Linked DNA regions of Homo sapiens. The protein of the gene in region 2 interacts with the protein of the main gene of each other region in a pairwise test. Each region holds a gene or a part of one and is shown on either strand. Other genes may lie near its edges.

The links. The genes of interacting proteins can lie anywhere in the genome.
Region 1: the proteins of MLYCD (region 2) and PHYH come close enough for resonance energy transfer, tested with the Homo sapiens proteins (one large-scale study listed by BioGRID).

Annotation. Positions count from the first base shown.
Region 1 is NC_000010.11:13,290,065-13,293,564, forward strand, and holds part of PHYH (phytanoyl-CoA dioxygenase, peroxisomal isoform a precursor), read right to left. Parts: intron 1,849-3,500; coding exon 1,767-1,848; coding exon of another isoform or gene 1,761-1,766; intron 1-1,760. UniProt on the Homo sapiens protein: Catalyzes the 2-hydroxylation of not only racemic phytanoyl-CoA and the isomers of 3-methylhexadecanoyl-CoA, but also a variety of other mono-branched 3-methylacyl-CoA esters (with a chain length of at least seven carbon atoms) and straight-chain acyl-CoA esters (with a chain length longer than four carbon atoms).
Region 2 is NC_000016.10:83,902,115-83,905,614, reverse strand, and holds part of MLYCD (malonyl-CoA decarboxylase, mitochondrial), read right to left. Parts: intron 1-3,500. UniProt on the Homo sapiens protein: Catalyzes the conversion of malonyl-CoA to acetyl-CoA.

The sequences.
Region 1 (3,500 bases), on a different chromosome or scaffold from region 2:
TCGAGACCAGCCTGACCAACATGGTGAAACCCTGTCTCTACTAAAAATACCAAAAAAAAAAAAAAAAAAAAAAAAAAAAAATTAGCTGGGTGTGGTGGTGGGCACCTGTAATCCCAGCTATTCAGGAGGATGAGGCAGGAGAATCACTCAAACCCCAGAGGCAGAGGTTGCAGTAAGCCGAGATTGAGCCACTGCACTCCAGCCTGGGCAACAGAGCAAGACTCCATTTCAAAAAAAATAAAAATAAAAAAAGTTATCTAAGAGGTCCTCACCCCCCACAACTATAGTCATTCCATGTCCAGTCGGAGTGCCCATGACCACACTGACATTTTCCCCTGGTTTGCTCCCTGAGTGTGGCTCCCGAACACCTGCTCTCCTCAAGGAGGGAGAGACCTGGTAATGCTAAGCTGCCTTCTATCACATAAACCCCTCCTGCAGATCAGAAGGAAGAAAAGGCAGAAAGGATAGGGGGACTCTCTCATGGCTGATTTTTACTGCAGGCACAGAGGAATTTCCCAGTGTAGTCCAAGTGATCTGCACTACAATCTCTGGACTTGAACTCCTGGGCTCCAGCGATCCTCCCCCCGCAGCCTCCTGAGTAGTTGGGACCACAGGTGCACATCCACGCCCAGCTTGAGGAAGGTTATTAAAATACAGAAACCTGGGTTATATTTCTCAATCAGTCTGTCTGCCAATGAGGTCTTAGATTCTACATTTTAGCAAGCACAAGACATTTTAAAGACAACTATAGGCTGGGCGCGGTGGCTCACACCTGTAATCCCAGCACTTTGGGAGGCCAAGGCAGGTGGATCATCTGAAGTCAGGAGTTCGAGACCAGCCTGACCAACATGGCGAAACCCTGTCTCTACTAAAAGTACAAAAATTAGCCAGGCTTGGTGGCACATGCCTGTAATCCCAGTTACTTGGGAGACTGAGGCAGGAGAATCAGGAATTGTTTGAACCTGGGAGGTGGGGGTTGCAGTGAGCCAAGATCGCGCTATCGCACTCCAGCCTGGGCAACAAGAGCAAAACTCCATCTCAAAAAAAAAAAAAAAAAAAAAAAAGACCACTATAGTTTGTGACTCATAGTAACAATTTTAATTGTGTTAGTAATAATAATGTCTTCCTATCAGGAATGCAAGAATCCACACTATCACAGCTAAAAAGAGCTGATCAAGCTTAGAGACGTCGAATGGCAGGAACCTTTGATATATGAACAGTTATGTCGGTTAAACTGCATTTTTGGGGAGCCAGTCATCTGAAAATTCAGCAACAGTCCTACAGTTAATATCTGAAATAATTACCACATTTCACTGTTGTTATAGTGTAAGTTATTTTAAGACTTCCTTATCCAAAGTTTGACAGTTGTACACATGATTACAGTTAGACATCAGCTATTTTATTATTTTGTTTTGTTTTGTTTTATTTATTATGTAGAGATAGGGTCTCACTGTGTCACGCAGGCTGGAGAGCATGCCATTATAGGTTCACTGCAGCCTTCAACTCCTGGGCTCAAGTGATCCTCCCACCTCAGCCTTCCAATAGCAGGGACTACAAGTGCATACCACCATGCCTGGATATTTTTAAATTTTATTTTTAGAGACAGAGCCTCACTATGTTGCCCAGGCCACTCTCAAACTCCTGGCCTCAGAGATCTTCCTCCCTTGGTCTCCTAAAATGCTGGGATTACAGGCATGAGTTACTGCACCCAGCCAACCTTACACATTTTAATGAAACCATTTTTTTTTCTTCTCCCTTACAATTACCAGAATCTGGAGGTTTGTTTATCAACATTGTGTGCATGGCCATAATATTAGGTCCAGTGAAGCACTCCACATATTTCAGAATCTAAGAAAGCAAAAAAAAAACAAAAACAAACCTTGTGGGAAATCAGAAGTATTGACAACTGGTACAAAGTACAGTAGCTATCCACACAAGAACCAAGAAGGCAATAGTTTAAGAACCAAGCGGTATTTCACAACATTGCAAACAAAGCATGAAAAACCCAGCCATTGGAAATCATTCTAAATCTATAACACGGAATGAAATGGGCTTTTTCTGAGCTAGCTGGGAATGAAACCATTTTTTCTCTACAAGAAACATAGGAGTTCCGATGAGATATTAATATAGCTTTCTTGTCAACCCAAGCAACAGAAGGTTGCTCAGTGGGAGGGCAGTTTCCTCTTCCTCATTGGAGCCTCTGCATACGAAGAGTCCCATACAATTCACAGCTGTCATGAATAGCCCGGAAGAAAGCAGAATGGTGGCTTGGAGGACATTTGACAATCGGGGACGCTTGGCACTTGACAACTCATTACTGAGATCTGGGAACCAGGAGGTGACGGGAAATGGGGAAGCAAGAGTGAACAAGCAAAGCAGGTCCCAGGAGTTAGATGAAAAATGTTAACCCAGTAATGACATGGGTCAGAGTGGCCGAGGGACACTGCATTATGAAGAAAAGGCTAACATGGGGAACCGTGACAGGGAGAGCTGGTTTAGTCGTGGGGCCTGGGAGCTGGGCTGCCGCTACCTTGTGTACAGAACCCAGCAACGGAGAGGGAAAAAGCAGAAAGGGCTCAACACTGAGGTCGGGTGCGTTAGCGCACACCTGTAATCCTAGCACTTTGGGTGGCCGAGGCGGGCGGATCACTTGAGGTCAGGAGTTCAAAACCAGCTTGGCCAACATGGCAAAACCATATCTCTACTAAAAATACAAAAATTCGCCGGGCATGGTGGCACACGTCGGTAATCCCAGCTACTTGGGAAGCTGAGGCAGGAGAATCACTTGAACCCAGGAGGCAGAGGTTGCAGTGAGCTGAGATCATACCACTGCAGTCCAGCCTGGGCAACAAGAGTGAGACTCTGTCTCAAAAAAAAAAAAAAAAAAGAAGAAGAAGAAGAAAATAAAACAACCCATGATATTCAAATTTTGATTCTGCAAAAAAAAGACTCCAAAAAATAAGCCACCTTCTACTGCTTCCTCACTTTTTGATCTCTTGTGTATAAGGAATATTGGCAATTTGAGTATGAAACCCTGGAAAGGTTATTAAAAGCCTAGCAGTCAGGCACACACTTGCTTTTTATAAAGCCTGGTATTTTTTTGTATTCATCTAGGCTGGGATTTTCTAAATGCCAGCCATTCAAGAGCCATCCTCACAACTTCTGACATAACTTGTACTGTTATTTAGCCAATGATTTCCCTACCCTTAGTTAGCTCACTTGTTTTTTGTTTTTTGTTTTTGTTTTTGTTTTTTTTGAGATGGAGTCTCGCTCTGTTGCCCAGGCTAGGTGCAATGACATGATCTCGGCTCACTGCAACCTCTGCCTCCCGGGTTTAAGCGATTCTCCTGCCTCAGCCTACTGAGTAGTTGGGATTACAGGCGCCCGCCACCATGCCCAGCTAATTTTTGTATTTTTAGTAGAGACTGGGTTTCACCATGTGTCTCAGGCTGGTCTCAAACTTCTGACCTCGTGATCTGCCCACCTCGGCCTCCCAAAGT
Region 2 (3,500 bases):
GAAGGCGGTGTGATGGCTGGCATTGGAGCAGCCATCCTGGGCCACGACGTGGCTTTGGAGATGAAGGTTTTTCTCGGCAGAGCAACAAGATTCAAGTCTGAATCCACCAAGAGCACCAAAGAGCAGAATCAGCTCTGGGCTGCCCACCTCTAGACTTTCACATGACAGACAAACTTCTGTCATATTCAAATCACTGTTATTTTGGGTCTTTGTTACTCATAAACTACATAGTAACAGATCCACTGAACATTATTATTAAATAACAGTAAACATCTCAGGACATCTGATACAAGAATGACCTTCTGAATCTCTCTACAAGGGTCATAAAGAACACAATGGGCAACACCTATAAGAATGGCTTTACAACAGCTAGAATTTTTTTTTTTTTTTGAGAGATGGAGTCTTCCTCTGTCACCCAGGCTGGAGTGCAGTGGTGCAACCCTGGCTCACTGCAACCTCTGCTCCCTAGGTTCAAGCGATTCTCCTGTCTCAGCTTCCAAATTTTATAAAACAATTTTACATTTTAATCCCTGTTAAAGGGTGAAAGGACTCAGAACTTTGACGCCTGAGAAAGAGTTGCAGGTTTTGGGGTGATGGCTCAGAGAAGTTTTCGGAAGGAGATGAGGTCTCCTTTTACATGTTTAAGCACTAGGGCACGAAAGAGGCCACAAATTTGTTCTGTGTGACCCCATGGGGGCCGGGGAAGGAAATCTAGGACTGACTGGTGGAAGTCATGGGCAGTCAGATGTGGACTCAATTTAGTGTAAAGAGGAACTTTTGAATAGCTGGAGCTGTCCACAGAGGTCATCCTGGGAGACGGTGACCCTCAGCACTGGAAGCCATCAAGCACAGGTGGACAGAACTCAACGGAGCTGTTTGAAAACGGATTTAAGCATTAGATAGACAGCTGGACCAGAAGATCTTTGCAATTCCTTTTAACTCTACATTCCATGACTCAATCTCCTTTACTTGGTTGTAAACGCCATAAAAGCAGGATCCACTTCTGATTCATTTTTATAGTTCGCAAAGCATTCACTAATAGATTGATATCAAATGAAAAAGATGGAAAAATGGAATGAATCGTGATTAGGAAGTAGCAAGAGGGCAGGATGAAAGAGATCATTTGCTAGGTGACACAGAATGGCCCTTTGTAAAACTGTACTTTCTGCATTTGACTATAGCAATTCTTAATCTTCCTGGGATCCTCTCACACTCTTACGTGCTAAAAACCATAGGCCCTGCCCCCAAAACACTGCAAATACATTAGTAAAATTGTGCATACGTTTTCCTGGGGTACATGGACTCCTCTGATACTTATCTATGGACCATCCCAGGGGCCAGGAGGGCTTCTGTACCCCAGTTTAGGAACGGATGAGCTGAGCTCTGCGTAAGAGGTACTGGTATCTGTCTTACATTCGTGATATGAAAAAAGCTGGAAATACCTAGTTTTACTATCAATTTAATATTAATTATGAAAGAAATGGTTTGGCTGATGAAAGCTCCTCCCCTACAGATCTCTTCATTCTATTTTGGGCTCCTGACAGCTACAAAATGTGACACTGGTACACGAGAACTGGGAATCCAGGCTAAAGGTTAGAAGTCTCCGTTGCTCAGTTCTAACACCGGCAGCAGCTGTTCAGGCTGGGATGAGCCACAGCACGCGGCAACGTTGCCAGGATACAAACACCACCAGGGAAAGAGGCCTCTGCAACTGTACGTGCGTTAATTCAGGCACCATTTATCACCAATACAAGACTGAGAAACACAACTGCGGGGAATATCCTGGTGATGCTAAGGGCAGCGACAGTTCTCAGTGGATTCTGCTGGAGTGTTTCTTATTTTTTTTTTCAGAGGCAGGTCTTGCTCTGTTGCCTAGGCTGCACTTGAACTTCCGGGCTCAGCTGAACCTCCCAAGTAGCAGGGACTACAGGTGCGTGCCACTGCACCCGGCTCTGTGTATTGTGTATTGTTAATTCCATTGACTTGTATGACACCGTTTAGACCAGCCCACTTTTCCTTTTAAAAGAGAAACTGGTTCCCTCTCTTTTGAAGCTCTATCAAGATCTGCTTATTTTGGTATGTGAAGAAAAGTTACCTTCCCTTGTCCAGAAGCCCTGCTCTGGGGAAGGGAGGATAAAGTCATGGATGAGGGTAGCACTGCAGAGGCTGAGAAATTTGGGGAAAATTCCCACTCACGTAAGCTGACACTCCGCAGGTGTACACTTGATGCTATGGGTATACTGTCCTATCTAAAAATAAGTATTATTTAGCATAGGTAAGCACAGAATTTACTAGAACCAACAAGGAGTACTCAATTAACTAAAAGGCAGAGGGTACGCAGGTGTCTAGCATGGCCGGGTGGCTGTGGCAGTGGGAACCAGGTCCCTTCTCTAGTTTCTGTGCCTCTGTTAAGGTTGGAGCACCTCTCATTCCACCCTAACAGCAAGGTCCAAACTGCCCATGAGGAACCCTTTCCATGAATTAAAGGCCAACCTTCCTCGAGTGCCCACAAATCACTGAACCTCGCTCAGACCTTCCCCTCTACTGGGGATTCGACTCGGTTTCACTGGGATTTCACCTCTAAGAAACTGAAGTCATCAACCAACTGGGCCTCTGGAGAAAAACAAAAAGCCTATAAACCACCATCCCCCAGACACATCACATCCTCATACCCACACCTACCATGCAACCACAGGGACACACATACCTCCAAACTCCTCTACATTCAGGAGGCCACAAATCCAGGCAGTAACAAGCCTCCAAACTCACTCAGATCAGAGGAAAAGAACATTTTAAAAAGTAAGAACACAGCCAGGCACAGTGGTTCACACCTGTAATTCCAGCACTTTGGAAGGCCAAGGCGGGCGGATCATCTGAGGTCAGGAGTTCCAGACCAGCCTGGCCAACATAGCAAAACCCCATCTCTCCTAAAAATACAAAAATTAGCCAGATGTGTTGGCAAGCACCTGTATTCCCAGCTACTCAGGAGGCTGAGGTGGGAGAATGGCTTGAACCTGGGAGGCGAAGGTTGCAATGAGCAGAGATTGTGCTGCTGCACTCCAGCCTGGGCAACAGAGCAAGACTCTGTCTCAAAAAAAAAAAAAAAAAAATCAGATTAAAAAAATAGATCAGATCATACCACATTAAGTGATTCTGGTGAGAGGTTACAATATCAGATCCCAGTTGATAGTTTATAGGTACAGAACAATCTAATTCTATTCTAAGACTGATTTAAGCGACAGGGATTTTAAAAAAATTACATCTGGGCTCACACCTATCTATAATCCCAGCACTTGGGATTGGAGGATTGCTTGCTTGAGGCCAGGAGTTCAAGACCAGCCTGGGAAACGTAACAAGAAAAAACATAAACATGAACAAAAAAATAAACACAAACAAAAAACCGTAAACAACAAAACAAAAAACCATATATATATATATATATATATATATATATATATACGCACGCACACACACACACACACATATACACATACATATAT